2 separate regions of the Homo sapiens genome follow, and region 1 is linked to region 2. Evidence: fine-mapped expression QTL. A gene starts in region 2. The other region holds a variant in brackets. All regions are shown on one strand. Distances are from middle to middle. Region 1 has its middle 32 kb from the start of APPL2. Region 2 holds the start of APPL2 (adaptor protein, phosphotyrosine interacting with PH domain and leucine zipper 2).

Region 1 (8,653 bases), 33 kb after region 2:
TATTGTGTATGTTTCTTCTCTTCCCGCCACTTGTCACCATCACAGTTTCCATATTTATGTATATGTTTATTGTTGGTTTCCAACATGAAAGATATACTTCTTATGAGAGTAGAAGGAACTTTGTCCCATTCCTTGCTGTATTCTCAAGGTTAAGCAGAGTACCCAGCACACAATTGGAGCTTGATCAGAAGTTGTCAGTTAAATGAATGAATAAATACACGGGTGAGTGAGGACAGTCATTGGGAAACTTGCCCTCCTCTCCATTCTATTAGGTTGGTGCAAAAGTAATTGCAAAAAGTAATTGCAAAAGTAATTGTACCAATCTAATAGAATGGAGGGGAGAGCAGGTTTGCTGACACCACCAAATGCTGGCAAGGATGTAGAGCAACAGGAGCTCTCATTCATTGCTGGTGGGAATGCAAAATGATACAGCCACTTTGGAAGACAGTTTGGCTGTTTCTTACAGAAATACACGTACTTTTACCATATGATCCAGCAATTGTGCTCCTTGGTATTGACCCAAATGAATTAAAAACTTATGTCCACACAAAAACCTGCACATGGATGTTAATAGCAGCTTTAATAATAATTAACAAAAGTTGGAAGAAACCAAGATGTCTTTCAGTAGGTGAATGGATACATTACTTTTATGGCAAAAGTCTCAATTACTTTTGTGCCAACCTAATAATATCATGCTATTAACAGAGGAGGCGGCGTGGGGTGAGGAAATGCCACTAAGAAAGTCTCAGATGAGTCTCAGCATCAAGGTGATGTGGCACATTGAGGAACACAGAACCTGGATCAGCCTGGCTAGATTCAGTCCGTATCTCTGTGCTGTCTGGTAAGTTCTTAAGAGTACCATATACTAACTGATTGCACCACTGGAGCTACAGGTAAGTTCTTTAAACTCTCTGCAAAATGGAGGTGATAGTAAAAGTACCTGCTACTGTTTTGAGTACTAAATACAATCATACATACAAAGCTCTTAGAATAGTGGCTAGCAGGTGGGCACGGTGGCTCATGCCTGTAATTCCAGCACTTTGGGAGACGGAGGTGGGAGGATCACTTGAGCCCAGGAGTTGGAGATCAGCCTGGGCAACATGATGAAACCATGTCTCTACACAAAATACAAAAAATTAGCTGGGTGTGGTGGTGTGCGCTTGTAGTTGCAGCTACTCAGGAGGCTGAGGTGGGAGGATGACTTGAGACCAGGAGATAGAAACTTCAGTGAGCCATGATCGCACCACTGCACTTCAGCCTGGGGGATAGAGTGAGACTCTGTCTCAAAAAAAAAAAAATTATTGCTATTAGGTCATTGCTTGGTAAAACTTTAAGCCTCTGCATTCACATCCACCTCTTGCCCCCACCTCATCATCAGCTTTTCCAAATGCTGAGCACTGCCCAGTAAGACAAAAGCCTGCCCCAGAGGTTCTCAGAATTCTCCCCATGACACTCCCATGTGCTATGGAAATTTCTAGGTTCCTCCCATTTGGCTTTACTCCATCCCTTTCCCTCATACTAAAGAAAGCGTTTTGGAAAACAGGTGAAATATAAAGTTATAAAGATAATCTTGCATCTTTTTAAACTTAAGAACAAAGTGTAAATCGTTAGAAAACTTGATTATTTGTCAAATGATCAAGACAAATGAGATTGAAAACCACTGGCCTTCATGGCATGCTTAGCAAGAAAGGGACTAAAAATGAAATGGGTAAGAAAGCCCTGAACAGTAACTTCTGTGGTCCCAGGAAGTAGTCAGTGACATTACCTGGAAGTGTTACAGAACCAGCCCCCAGAGAGGGACCTTTCATGAGTCCCACCAGCAAGTGACACTGTTTCCCAAAAGTAATAGAATTGGATCCCTTCCCCTCCACAGGGGAGCTGCAAGAGCTGTGTCCTCAAGCAAATAGAGAGAGAAGCCACCCCCTCTGGGATAAGTAGTACATCGTTGACACTTTGTAGGGCTAGCCTTCCTCAGCAATGTAAGTGATGTAAAAAATGGTGCCGAAATATGAACAACAATAAGATACCACTACACACCTATCAGAATGGCCAAAATGCAAAATGCGGACAACACAAAATGCTGGAAAGGATGTAGAACAACAGGAACTCTCATCCATTGCTGGTGGGAATGCAAAATGGTACAGCCACTTTGGAAGACAATTTGGCTGTTTCTTACAAAACTATGTATACTCTTACCATATGATGCAGCAATTGTGCTCCTTAGTATTGACCCAAATGAATTAAAAACTTATATCCACACAAAAACCTGCACGTGGATGTTAATAGCAGCTTTAATAATAATTGACAAAACTTGGAAGCAACTGAGGTGTCTTTCAGTAGGCGAATGGATAAATAAACCAGGGTACATTTAGACAATGAACTATAATTCAACGCTTGAAGGAAATGAACTATCCAGCCATGAGTAGACTTGGAGGAAACTTCAAAGAATATTATAAAGTGAAAACGCCCATCTGAAAAAGGCTATATACTGTATGAGTCCACCTATGTGACATTCTGGAAATGGCAGAACTATGAAGAGAGTGAAAGTACCAGTGGTTGCCAAGGGTTGCGAGGAGGGAGGAATAAAGAGGCAGAACGCACAGAAATTTTAGGGAATCCAAACTGTCCTGTATGATACTATAATGGTAGATACATGTCGTTATACATTTGCCAATACTCATAGAATGTACACCAAGAGTGTCAACTATGGACTTTGGGCAATAATGAGATGACAATGTAGGCTCATCCATTGTAATAAATGTAGCCACTCCAGTGTGCGGGTGTTGATAGTGTGGGAGGCTGTGTTGTGGGGGGCAGAGACTATATGGGAGCTCTTTGTACTTTCTATTCAATTTTGCTGTGAAGCTAAAGCTACTCTAAAAAATAAATTCTGTTTTAAAAACCCTTTAAATTAAAGCTTGAAAAAGTCCATGGAGCAGAGATCTGGAATAAGTAGTCCCATGCAGGAAGTCCCATCCCAGCATGTCAGAGTGGTAGACACAGAACATCCGCAGAACAAATGATTCCAGCCCAAAGACCAGAAGAAAAAGACTTATCTTGACCATCCTTTCCTTAGGGTTCTTTTCTTAGGGTTGCACTTCCTCTGTGAGGAGGGAATAGGAAAATGATAGTCAGACCCCAACAAGTGGTGGTTTGTGATAGAACTGTATTAACTGAATAATAAAATGTATATAGTTCTCCCTTCTATTGTGTTCAATTGCACTCCTCATTTTGTGGCCTTTGTAAAACCCCAAAAGGAAATCTTTGGAAAGCCATAGTTATGGATCTATATATCTGAACTGGGTTGTGTGACTGTCTCAGTTTGGGTTCTTCCCAAACCAGACCCTGAGACAATAATTTGAGTATAAGTCGTTTATTTGGGAAGTGCAGGGAATACTGGTAGGAAACGGGGAAGTGACACAGGAAAGGAAGCTAGTAAAGCCTCCATTATTTTATTCTTATTCTTATTCTTATTCTT[C/A]TTATTATTATTTTTGAGACAGAGTCTTGCTCTGTCACCCCAGGCTGGAGTGCATTGGCGCGATCTCGGCTCACTGCAACCTCTGCCTCCCAGGTTCAAGTGATTCTCCTGCCTCAGCCTCCAGAATAGCTGGGATTACAGGCGCCTGCCACCATGCCCGTCTAATTTTTGTATTTTTTAGTAGAGATGGGGTTTCACCATGTTGGTCAGGCTGGTCTTGAACTCCTGACCTCAGGTGATCCACCCGCCTCGGCCTCCCAAAGTGTTGGGATTACAGGTGTGAGCCACTGTGCCTGGCCAAGGCTCCATTATTAAACCAACTACTGCTGTAGGCAATTGAAATGTAATTTCACAGGGATGTTCTAAAAAATGGCGTAAAAAACACATCTCAGAATAATTCTTCCTGAGTAGCAAGTGGCTAGGGGAGATACATTTGGAGGGCTATTGGAGTGCAGACAGGCTGTGGTCATTTCCTGGTGCTTCTCTGCACAAGCATATGTCAGTTAGAATAGCTTTCCATGGTTCCAAAAAGAGCCTCCAGGCCCTAGAGGCCCACACTGGGAGCTGTGTCATCAGCTGGAGCGTCGGTGAAGACTGTAAGCAGGACACTGGTAACAGCTGCTACATTAACCACTGCAATCATCCAGGTTCATCTGGTTCCTATCCCAGCCCCACCATTACCAGCTATAAGATCTTCAGCAAATTTGTAACCTTTCTTAAGACTCGGTATTAAAGCTTAAGAATTAACACCAGCTTATGAGGTGGCTGTGAACATCAACTAAAAAATGTGTGTCAAGTAACCCTGGCACATAGTTTCAATTTATATATATGCGTGTGAGTCTGTGTGTGTTTCTGTGTTTGTGTGTACACATAAAGACACACACACATATTTCTTGGAGTAGTGAGATAAGAGACTGCGCTCATTGAATGTAGCTTTAGCAAGGCTCACTTAGACCCGAGAGGGCTACATATTACCGACCACACTGTAAAAGACTGATTTTTATATCAGATCATCACCCCGTTATTGAGCATATAAAATGTAAACAGGATCTAGATTGGCATTCCCTGGGCTTTAAGAAACTTTCAAGAAAGTAATACAAGAGAAAACTTCTGTAGCTGTCAGATGGCTTCCTGGCTCTCCCTGCTCTTACTTAGGCTATGATTTGGTCCTATAAACAAGACCCAAGTCTGGCTTTTTCACTAGTGGGAGAGTGACTCTCCTCTCCTAGCAGTGGAGATGAGGAAACAGAAGGTGCTGTAGCTTTCCAAGGGAACTGTTTATCTCAAGATGCCTCAAGGACCTCCACGTTCTCCTCTCAGTTTGGGGCTGTGGCTTACTCCACTGCTAAAACAATGAAATCTGCCCCTGAACAATAATTGTTTTATGGAAAGAAAAATGTTGTCAAAAAAAGAAAATCTTCATTGTTTTGCAAAATCTCTAAAAGGACCAGATATAAACTGTTGATTGACCAGTGTGCTTATTTTTCAAATGGAAAAATAACACCTTTTTTAAAAAAGTGACCTTTCATACAAAAGATACTGAAATTTTACAGGTCTTTCTTTTTTTACTGAGATATTATTGACATACTGAGAAAAATCTTGTATTAAAAAAACTTTTTGGTATTAAAAAAGGATGGATAATAGCTGCATTTGGTTGGATGTAAAATGTTAGGATTCAGAATTTGATTTGGATTTTAAAGTCAATCAATCTTCCAGTCAACATTACTAAAGGTCCAATTGGCAAGAGTATAAACTAAAAGAAGGCAAAATATTTAACAAAAGTTGATGGTTATTGAGTTTTCAAAAGAATGTCACTTTCTAACAGTTGTTCTTGAGAAAGGTTTTGCAATATCATCTGGGTATTTTTAAGTAAAGGACCAAGGTTTGGTTTCTGGTTTGATGTAAGGGCAGTTTGAGCCAGAACCAAGAAATGTACTGGTTCACTTTTTACAGTCTCTTCTTATCCTACACTCCTATGGCCTGACTGCAGCGAGGGATATCTTGAAAAGCTACCAGTTCAGTGGGTCTCCTCTGGGCATTCATTAGTATACCTACTTTGTTCGTAGAATGATTTCTTTCAAGCCTGGAACCAGAGTTGATTTTTGTACATGCAATTTCTCCTAACTCATTTCAATGTTTTGTTTCTCATGATACATTTTAATCTTTCTTAATTTTAGCCTTTTTACTTAGTCACCCCAATTCTTCGAACTGTCTGTACGTGTGATACCCAAGGTCTTATACCCTATTCTGTTCAGAGGAATGACCAGACAACCCAAACTTATAGCTTTCCACTTACAGACTCACTTAAGCCCTGCTAAAGTGGGACTGAGATTTTCTGATTGCTTCTCTATCTGTCAGAATTTTGATTTTTAATCCCTGTCTGCTGGGTTTCAAAGTTCATGCATTTTCTTTATATCACGCACCTCTCTTTTTGGGTGCAAAACTGAAAGACAACAGCCTTTATATTTTTGATGAGTGTATGACTAATGCTGTTGCATCTGGATCGGAAAAGAGGAAATTCATAACAAATGGCCAGCAGTAATCACCTCTAAAGTACTTGAAATTGGTTGGGAAAAATTTTCAGAAGCTTTCCCAAAATTTTCATTTACCTCTTCTAGTGATTTTGGAGTTTCCCAACATAGATATTTAAGATTTTTAAAATGTTCCTTATTCATTGTATTTGCTTTCATATTTACTTTCATTATCATCAATTGAAACATCTTGTTCCTGCTATTTTTTTCTGCAAATAGGTGAATTTGAACAACATCAAGGCATAAATAGGCCTCTGTGGGCTGATCTGGGAGCCCTACCATTTAAAAATTGTTTATAAGAGAAAACATGTTCCAATTCTAAGCAAACAAATTAAAACATAACCCTTTTGTACATTGGACATGGCTGATTTGTGCCAGGTTAAGAGTATAAATTAGAAGCAAGGCTGGCCAAATTCAAATTCCAGCTCTGTTTCCAGCTAGCTGTGTCATCCTGAGCAAGCTTCCTAACCACGCTGAATCTCTATTTTCCTTTCTTCTTACCTGGAGGACATAGTACCTACTGCAGAAGGTTTCAGAGAGGTATGAATGATGTAATGTACATAAAGCACAGAGTAAAACTTAATAAATATTAGCTATTTTGATCCTGTTTTTAAGGTCCCATTCAGGCCCCTGACTTTAGTAGGAAGGTGAGAAGGAGGAAGGCCAGGGTCTAGGCTTTGCTTCTGGGGCCACAAGTCCCTTCTAGCATGCAAGCCAATAGTTTATTACAGAAAGACTTGCTGTCATAAGGATTCCCTGTATGACCCTGAAAAGTTTCACCATCTTCTGTGCCTGTTTTTTCTTCTTTAGGATGGATGTCAGCAATAATAAAACCTTCCTCTCCTTAACTCACAGACCTACTGAGAAAATAAAGGAGAGACTCTCTGCTTGAGGTCTTTGAACTAATCAGTTCCACATAAGGTGTCATGAATCCCAGACTTGTGAAAGTTCACATCTGTAGTCATCCTTTTTCGGTGAGTGAAGTAGGGAGGGGGAGACCAAATTCCAGTGAGTACTGGAACCCCTGGCTATGGATCTGTGCTTGGGATTTTGGGCTCCTCACATTCCAATACTTACAAGCTTCAGTTGTATTAAAGAACTTGGGAGACAGATGGACTTGAGGTCTGGCCCCAGCTTTGCCACTTATCAGCTATGTGACTCTGAGCAAGCCACTTAATCTCTCAGAGATAATATCAGTATCACCCTCAGAGGGCTGTCAGGATGAAATGAGGGGGTGCACACAGCATATTTAGCACAGTGTCCAACACAGGCTTCGTGCTCAAAGTGTCAGATTTGATGATGATGATGGTGATAACGATAATTTTTGTTTATTTACTGCTTAAAAGTGTCCACCCTTAAATATCACAACCGTTTATTATTCTTTTCTTAGTTGCTCTGCTGCTGCAGTGGTTTGAAACACAGGCTCAGGCTCTCCAAAGATATTCCCTTCTCTAGTTTCTGATAGAGTCATTTTGAAACTATTGCCCTAATTAAATCGCAATGTTGGCTGTATATCTATTGTCTGTTTTATAAGCCACATAATTGTTAAAAGAGAGAGGATGCTAAACATCTCTTTCTACATTTTCTTCTTTCTTTCAAAGTAATGAGTTTTCTCATTGTTTTAAGGAATTAGTCATGTTGGCAGGGTGTGCAGATTGTCATTTTGATGGATCCTCATAGTATATGACAAGATTTGACAAAGAGTTTTCAAAAATCATTAGGCTTGTCAAAATTCTATTCTGTGCTTTGTCAAGAGTCACCATCCTATATTATACATCTGAGAGTTTGTCAGATAACAAACAGAGTTGCCACAGCTGGAGTTGGATTGTGCTCCTCAGGTCCTCTGCACCAACTTCAACCTGAAAAACTACAATTTTGTATCTTAGAATTCCAGGTAAGATTTCATTTGAAAAGAGGTTCACGGCTAAAACGCTTGTGCTTTTCTGCACGCATGTCTTTCTGTAGACTTAGACAGGAAATCCATTTCTAGACTGGGAAAAACATTTTAATTAGCCATTAGTAGTGGGTCAGAGGAGTAAAACAGGAACAATGGGAAGTCTAAGAGAAAAAGGGAGGTAAGTATAGACCAATAGACACAGCACATTGGAGTAGAAAAATACTTTTTTTTTTTTTTTAATCAGACAGGATCTCAATCTGTTGCCTGGGGGGAGTGCAGTTGTTCCCTTTTACTGGTGGAGGGTCTTGACTATGAGTTGTCCAGGTTCTTGGTGTTTGGAACGAAGAATTGGACAAAACACACAAACAAAGCACAATGAAAGAATGAAGCAACGAAAGCACAGATTTACTAAAACAAAAGTACATTCCATGGAGTGGGAGCCTGCTCCAGCAAGCGGCTGAAGAGGCTGGTTACAGAATTTTCTGGGGTTTAAATTCTCTCTAGAGGTTTCCCATTGGTTACTTGTTTACACCCTATGTAAATGAAGGAGTGGCCCACGACCAGACTGATTGGTCATGGGAGGTGACCAGTCAGAGGCTGAAGTGAAATTACAATGTTACACATGAAGAATTGGGTAGTCTGATTGGTTGTGGGAAGGGACCAATTGGAGGTACTTTTCATTTATCATCTACCATGCAGTGCAAAGGGAGTAGCCTCTGATCCTTTTGTTACTTGGGTGTGGAGAGG
Region 2 (8,653 bases):
TAGGTTAAACACACTGATTCAGGAGAATGAGAAGTGATATAACTGGATTGTGGCTAGTTTTTTCAAAAATACTACTATGTCCATTTAGCCAAATCCTGTTTATTGCATTTAATACTCTAAGGGATAAAAACAGACTGGAAGAAAAGAGGTAAAAAGGGAAAGAGAGGGTTTGCATGAATGTCCTCCACAAAGAGGGTAGAAAGAAAACTAAAATTACCACTTACTCTGTACCACCTATGTGCTGGACGCTGTGCTGGGCACTAAACATATGTGACTTCATTTAATTCTTCTAGCAACTCTCCAAGGTAGATTCCATGGTTCCATTAACTTCATTTTACTGATGATGAAACTGAGGCTCATCAAGGTTAAGAAATGTGTTCAACCTCCCACTGTAGGAATGTGGCAGGGCTGGGATGTAAATGGGTCGGCAGCACTGAGGTCACCAGCAGGGTGGCTCTCATCAGCGAGCATGATCTTTGGTCCACAGCGTACAGCCCTGACTGGAGGCAGGACAGGGGCAGACTGGAGCTGGATGCTACTACCATGTTCCCGCCCACAATACCTGCCAGAGAACTACATCACAAGTGTCCTTTTTCCTTATATCGTGGAAATGCAACTGTGATGCCCATTAGAACTGACAGGGAAACTCTGGTCTTCCCTTTTTAATTTAACTTGGCAGTGATCACCTCTGGAAAAAATATAACCAGCTACCTTGGACACTGGCTATCCTCATTTACTATACTGTGTCTGCTCAAACTTTGGTTTGGAACAACAGAGATATTCTGAGACATAAAGAAGGAATGAGACCAAGAATAAAGCAAAGGCACACCAGTAGCTCAAAATCCCACGGTCAGAAAGACACGGTCAGAAAGACACTGGTATATCTCACTTACAAAGATAACAACAGCAATCATTTATGGGGTTACTATGGCATGCCAGCATGGAGACACTTTACATATGTTACTTGTTCTTCCTAACAACTCAACTAAATAGCTATTTTTATTTTTATTTTACATACCTCCAAACACAACCTCAGAGAGATTGAGTAACTTGCCAAAAGTAACAGTAGCAGATTCAGGAGTGGAATTCCATCCATTTTCTACTGCCCGACACTTTTAAGGGTATGCTCGGCCAGAGAAACAAATCCAAGCACCCTATGCACACAGCCTCAGCTCCCTATCACTCCTTTACCTTAAAGAAACTGGGTATTACCTAATAAAACACTCCTAGACATTCTCAAGAATAGTGTGTGTAATTGTGTAGTGGCCCAATGTTAACACCACTGACTACTGAGAAAATTTTAAGGTTATAAACAAAGTTCTTATCTCCATAATTTGGTGGAGGAAGAGAATGTCCTAGTGAAAAGAACCAAGACTTTGGGAGGCCAAGACAGGAAGATTGGTTGAGCCCAGGAGTTCAAGACCACCCTGGGCAACACAGCAAGACTCTGTCTCTACAAAAATTAAAAAATTAGCCATGCGTGGTGATGCATGCCTGTAGTCCTAGCTACTCAGAAGGCTGAGGTGGGAGGATCGCTTGAGCCCAGGAGGCTGAGGCTGCAGTGAGCCGTGTTCATGCCACTGCACCCCAGTCTGGGCAACAAAGCGAGACCCTGTCTCAAAAAAAAAAAAAAAAAAAAAAAGAACCAAGTCTATTGAAAGGAAAAATAGGTTATAAACAAAAAGAGGAACAGCACAAAACATCTCCACAGTGAAGACATATAAAACCACCAGGTTATGTTTTGAGATTATCTTGTTTGAGGAAAGAAAGGCCTGATTTGGTTGGAGAGGGCTGCTCCCAGCCGGGCCACTCAACTGCATAACCTCAGAACTACATCTTTTATTTCTTTGTTCCGTTATGCCAATCGCAAAAGAAACAAACAAAACACAAACCGAGCAAGCAACAGTGCTGTTGTCTTCACCTTACCTCAAAAGTGTACTACTTACAGGACAAGAGAATAAGCCCCTGAAGAAGTACAAGCTGCAGGAGCTCAAAGCTGCATTTGTGTTCCTATCGCAGCAGGATTCACACTGTACTGGAACTGTTGCCTCATTATCTGTCTCTGGAACAAACTGTGAACCAGTCAAGGGTAGTCACTCTTATTTATCTTCACATTCCCAACAGCCAGTAGTGCCAGGCAAGGAGCAGAGGCTTCTAAACAACAATGGAGGCAGATTTCTTAATCCCTAAAATGTTCAGCTTCCCACATATGAGAGGTAAGCAGAAATAACGCATGTGTATGCACACAGACTAGTTTTACAATGCATCGTGCAGCACTGCAAACTAAAAAGGAGTCCATGAATAGATGTGTCTAAGGTCAGTTAACTGCTATTCAGCTCTTCCTGGGTCACTCAGTTCAATTACAAAAGCTTTGGTGTTCATTTAATTCATCCTGTGCAATCACATTACTGAAGCAACTCTCAAAATTACTCTTCATAAAACTAGAAGAAACACACAATAGATGGTTTATTAGGATCTTTTCCTTTTAGTGAAACATTTTAGGTCACTGATGACAGAAAAGCCCGGTGCTAGATAGCTGGGCTAACTTGAACCATATCCCTAGTACAGGCAAGTTGCCTGGGTTCCAGTCCTGGCTCTGTCACTTTATGGTGTATAATTCTAAGCAAATTACTTCTCTGCTCCTTAGTTATTTAAATAGAGAATGTACTTCAAGACTATTGGGAGGATTGAGTGAGTTAATATATGTAAAGCATTTAGAAGAGTCCCTGGCACATAAAATCCATGAAACAGGCATTTGCTATTGTTTTTATGCTTTGCACATAAAATGAAGGGGATGGATTAGATTCCTTCCAGTTCCAAGTCTAGGAGTCACCTTGGGAGTAAAGCTACATTAGGCACAGGTCACATACAAGAGAGTAGTATATAAATATGCTCTGATGATCATTAAAGACCTTCTTAAAGTCAGCTTCCATTCTGCACAACAGCACCATCAAGAGCCCTCTTAAGGGTGATGGCCAAGTCTCAAAAGCAATGACAAATAAACTTCCTATATTAAAAGGAACATATTAAATAAGAATGATAATATCTCTAAACCTCCTCTGCCACATACAAGTTCAAAGTTATACACCATGTAGATATGACAATGTTAACTCTAAAGCACCTTGAAGATCACCTGCTCCCTCCCTGTCTCTCATTCTGTAGATGTTCTGTAGATTAGGAAACTGAGCCAGCTACAGGGTGGAGATGAAGAGACTCACCCACATCACATCCTAAGTGAGCGTGAGAGCCAGAATTAGAACCCAGGTCTCCTGACTTGCTCTACAGTCCTGTCTACTTCCTCACAGCTGGGCAAATCCTTTAAGCCACTCACAAACAGTGTATATTCCTTTATGTTAGAGCTGGAAATTAAGAATATGATCTGTTTGTGAGGACAACATCAAGAATCAGTTAGTATAATCACTGTAACCTGGCTTAGGCATCACCATGTAGGTTAGAAAAGCAGGATATTTCTGTGCACCTCAGTTTCCATAAGTGCAAGGCAAACAGAGATCCTTGTTCAAAGTGATCATTTAAAATCTCACATTGCTATCTTCAGATTCCACACAACAGATATGAACATGGACAAAATGCCTTCTACCAAGGGCTTTAGTCTGATTAAAATGCCAGGAGTCTACAGCCATATAAAAAAGGGAGGCCTTGAAAAAGTCGTCCAGAGGATGCAAACTTACCAAAAAACAAAACAAACAAACAAAAAACACACACACAGCTTGCTTCCAGTTCCTTACTTATCTACACTAGGAGGATCACAAAAAATGAACAAAAGACACCTATGCATACAGCCCTTCGGACTTATTCTGAACTGTCGATGTAGGTAAATCCATACAAGGATCATCCTGGGAAGTATTATTCACTTAGAAGAAAAAGGGAAGGAACCCCAAAAGAGAGGGGAAAGTGTGAAACGAAAATAGGTTAATCTTATTCTAAGTTTTCAAGAGTTGAGACACTAGGAAATAAAGGCACTTATTTAAATAAACCCGGGATGCTGAACCAGGAGTGTAGGTACGAAGCTGGAGAAATGTTAAACAAAGGAGAACAAAAGACCCCTGGGGAAAGATGTGCTGAATTATGAACTAATGTCATCCTGCACTCATTTGCTATATTTACACACCAGTTTTCATCTGCAGAGCTCAAAGGACTTGACTCTCATCTCGAGTGTGCTAATGAAGTTCCCTTGTGCGACAAATGGGGCAGGTACTGTATTTTTCTCTTCACTAATGGGAAAACGGTGCCAAAAGGAGGCCTGGTACCGCCGGAAAAGAGATCCAGGCCCTCTGCCTCTCATTCTGGCTGGCACAAGTCTCATCACATCATTAGGAGTAGCAGTAATAAGACTGACTCATTATCTGTACCGGACATTGTCTGCTGACAACTTTACAGGTATTTCTCATTGACTTCTCCTAACAACCCTATGAAGCAGGCACAATTATTATTCCTATTTTACAGACGACAAAACTAAGGCACAATAAGGTGGTTTTCCTGAGGCACTCAGCTACTACATGGAATCAAAGTTTAGATCTCGCAGACTCAGTTGCAGCTGAGCTTGCAGGGGGGTCACGACATCAAGACTCCGGCCGCGGGGCTCTCTCCCCTGTTCCACAGCTCTGCCCCGGCTCAGGACTCAGGGCCCGGCCCGCCCCCTCCTCAGCCCGAGAGAACCCGGTGGGAGGCGCCGCGAGGGGGCCGGGCGCACTCCCGCGGCTGCCCGGCCGGGGGCGCGGCCTCCACTCCGGGGCTGGAGGGGCCTCCTCGGCCTCACCCCTGCGGGCGAGGGGCACCGGAGCGGCGGGAGGTACCTGGGGGCTGTCCTGCAACGCCTCCTCTAGCAGGAGCTTGTCCACGGCGGGCATGGTGCGGCGCGGCTCAGCCGAGGGCTGGGTTGGAAGGACAGAGGGCAGGAGACGCGGCGGCCGAGAGCACTCCCCGGCTCTGGGCTCAGGCGACGCGGCGGCCACTCCGTGCCCGCGGCGGCCCCGCGCGCGTCCACGCCTGGCCAGTGGCCGCCGCCGCCTGCCCGCCGGCCCAGCCCCCGGCCGAGCCGGATCAACAGGAAGTGTGGCGCGCCCGGCAGGGAAACCGGAAGTGTGGTGAGCTCCGGTCCCGACACCGGAAATGTGGCGCCCGCGCTTCCGCCTGCGCTCGCCGGCTCGCGGGGAGCGGGGGGCTCTGGGTGCCAGTCCCGTTGCTGAGGGAACCCTTCGGGTGTTTGTTCTCTGTGCTGAAGGTCCGTCAAGTCAATGCATATGAAGTCCAAAAGAGGAACTCGAGGGTAGAAAGATAAGGTTTTATCTGCTTATGGCTACCCAGAAAGCCTTTTGAGTTGAAGGAGCGAACAGATTTTTTCTTTTAATGGAAGGAAAAACCCACACTTCCCACACCACTTTTTCTAGATAAATTTCGACGCCCCTGAAACAGCTCTGAGAGCAAAGAGGTCGCCTATGCTATGGGAACAAAGAAAAGAGGAGAAAAGCTGGATAACTGACTCGTCTGTGATAATCAGAAATAACCACTTTGGAAACCACAGCTATTTGATGTGGTCATAATTAGGTCTCGTCCTCCTGGTTTATGTTTTGTGATTTTGGAGAATTTCATAATCAAATGTTTAGAATTGGAAGGGCTAGATAATCTAGGTTCCAGTGTTGTCATTTAGAGATGAGAAAATGGGACCCAGAGAAATAAGTGGTCTGCCCAGGGTCAGTTAGTAAACGCCAGAGGAAGAAAAGAAGGAAGGGAGAGGGATGGAAGAAGACTGGCAAGTGGAACGTGACACCTTTTTACACGGAAGGCAAGGGTTTCTGAAGTTCCTTCTTTAGAAGTTAATAAGACTGGCCGGGCGTGGTGGTTCACGCCTGTAATCCCAGCACTTTGGGAGGCCGAGATGGGTGGATCACGAGGTCAGGAGTTCAAGACCAGTCTGGCCAAGATGCTGAAACCCCGTCTCTACTAAAAATACAAAAATTAGCCGGGCGTGGTGGCATGCGCCTGTAATCCCAGCTACTCGGGAGGCTGAGGCAGAAGAATCACTTGAACCCGGGAGGCAGAGGTTTCAGTGAGCCGAGAGGGCACCACTGCACTCCAGCCTGGGCAACAGAGCAAGACTCCGTCTCAAAAAAAAAAAAAAAAATCATGCAGTATGTGTGTCACCAAAATCAACAGAGGGGATATGGTAATATATAAATTCTGCATTCTGCAGAGACCTCTTAGGTATATCAAGACCCAATCTGCATTGCTGACACCTCTGACAGTCTAGTATAGTAGCATGCTGCCTGATCACTTGAAAACTCCAAGGCCATTATTCCCTTGGTCTGGCCAGCGCCAACCTGACCTGAACCATTTTATGGCCTCCATCTACCATATTTTCCTCCACAGTATTCTTTCTTCCCTATTCTTTCTTGCCTCCACCATACTCTTGTCTTCCCTATAGGTGGAATCATGCTCACACCATATTTCTTCCCTTTCCTCTATTTTATACCGCCTGCCATTCAGTTCATTTTACCTCATCCAGTGTCCCAGACTCTCTTCTCACTGAAATCTAATTCCTCACGGCCAGACTCATGCTCTTCCTTCATCCTGATTGCGAGAACAGTACAAGGATAGTATTATACCCAGGGAAATAAATGTGCACATTTTAATTTGAAAATATGCATTACAAGAAGTTAGTGCCCTCAGAACCCTTGAAAGGGCTCAGACAGCCCCTTGGGAATCACAGCATTTTTCATGTACCACCTCATCTTCTAATTAAAGTTACTTTTCTTCAAATACTAGTATTCAACATTCAAAAATTGTTTAAGCTATCCCATTACTTTTCTGCATTTTCTTGCTACATTATGGGCTAAACAGCCTTAGTGGGATTTCTTGGAACTTAAGAACTGTTTACAACATTGTTTCTATGGGAAAATCTATCCCAAATTCAAAACAACTAAGTTACAAAAGTAGATCTGGAAATACAACACATGCATAAATGGTTTTAATTTATCTCATTTGTTAATTCATCCAATCATTCATTCATGTATTAAATATAGACTGCTCAGTGTTAAGCACTGTCTCCCACTTGTTTGATTCTCATTTAAATTCTGAAGGCAAATATCCTCTCCTTTGATAATCTGTGAGAAACTACATAAGAGGAATTTTTATGTCAACATGAACATTTAAAAATGTTTCATTAAAGAGTATATATCTGTTCCTATTAAACTATTATGCAGGTGGATTTTAGAAATCCACCCCACTGTCTCTGAAATCCCTGGTCAGCTGTGAAGTTGGTGACAGGAAGTATAAAGATGGACAGTCTGGAGTTGTCGTGATGTCTGAAGAGAGAGAGGATGAATTATATGGAGGTGTAACCTGTGACCCATTGAAGGCCAGTGGGGAAAAGGACACAGTGAGACACAAAAAAAGGACCCAGGATGGCCAGGTCAGAGAAGGCCTGGGGCTTCAGGAGTAAGAGAGAAAGGCAGGAGTGAAGAAGGCAGCTGTTTTGGGAGATGCTTAGCAAACTGCATGATAGGGCACACGCATTGAGATTCTTTCCTCTGCCAGTCAAGCCCTTTCTCCTGCCTCTTGTCTGACAAACCCAACCACAATCATCAAATCCCAGTTTAATGTGACTTTTTTGATGAAGTCTTCATTTACTCCTGTCCCCCCAAGCAGAATACATTTTCCTTTCCTTGAGTGTGCTTCAGTAGCACTTGCCGAGATAATTCTAGAATAACACTTACCTCTCTTTGTTTCCACCTCCAACCTTCCAGCTAGAATGGGTAGGAACTTGGTCTTATTTATTTCTGTAATTAGAGTGCCTAGTACATTACCTAGCACAAAAGCAGTTGCTTGATAAATACTTACTAAACTATAATGTGTTATTATAACTTATACATGATTGATACTCCAGAGTTTAAAAAATGTTTTCATGAATCTCATTTCATTTGATAGCACAATGCTGCTTTTGCCGTTAATCATTCACTAGGTAGCACCGACTGTGTGTTAGACTCTTCTCTAGAAGCTGAGGATATAGGCTGAAGCAAAAAGTAGTCCTTGCCCTAATGGAGTTTATATTCTAATGGAGGAAATAATAAGAAACAAATACAAGTTGATAAGTGTATGATAACCTTTAGTAAAGGAATAGAGGATCATGGGAAGTGGAAAGGATTCTTTGAGGTGTGCAACTGTTGAGCTGAGAATTGAATCAGGGAAGCCCAGCCCGAAGGAAAGAACAAGTGTGAGGGCCCTGAGGCTTGCTCCTCTTTGAGGAGGAGCAGAAAGGCCAATGTGGCTAAGGACAGCGAGGCGGGAAAGAGTGGGAGGAGATGAGGTTGAAGAGATGCCAATCACTGGCTCACAGAGGACGCTGAGTCCATGGGGAAGGACTTTGGGTGTTGCTCTTGATATGGCAGGAAGCCACTGTAAATATGAGCAACTGAATGACAGGGTCTGATTTACATTTTTAAAGACTATCTCTGGGTTCTGAAGAGGCTTTTGCAATCCTTCAAGCAAGAGATTTGAGAGATATAGGTCAAAGTCGAGGGTATGGAAATGTTGGGAGGTAGTTGAAGTCTGAACATATTTTGAAAGTAGAACTGACAGGATATGCTGGATGTAGTATGTGAGAGAAAGTGGGAAAGCCATTGGGCAAATGGTCCTG

Evidence for each region. PIP is the estimated chance that this variant, and not a neighbour inherited with it, causes the effect.
Region 1: its variant is fine-mapped to the expression of APPL2 in tibial nerve (GTEx, PIP above 0.99).

The regions. Positions count from the first base shown.
Region 1 is chr12:105,263,866-105,272,518 of GRCh38, forward strand. No RefSeq gene overlaps it. Among named protein-coding and RNA genes, the nearest start is that of APPL2, 32 kb to the left of the region's middle. The variant C/A (reference allele first, on the strand shown) is at 3,479.
Region 2 is chr12:105,231,145-105,239,797 of GRCh38, forward strand. APPL2 (adaptor protein, phosphotyrosine interacting with PH domain and leucine zipper 2) reads right to left here and starts at 5,030. Exons shown (of 21, transcript NM_018171.5): 1 at 4,815-5,030. The coding sequence starts at 4,868. RefSeq lists silencers at 4,609-4,858, 4,909-5,048 and an enhancer at 4,913-5,413.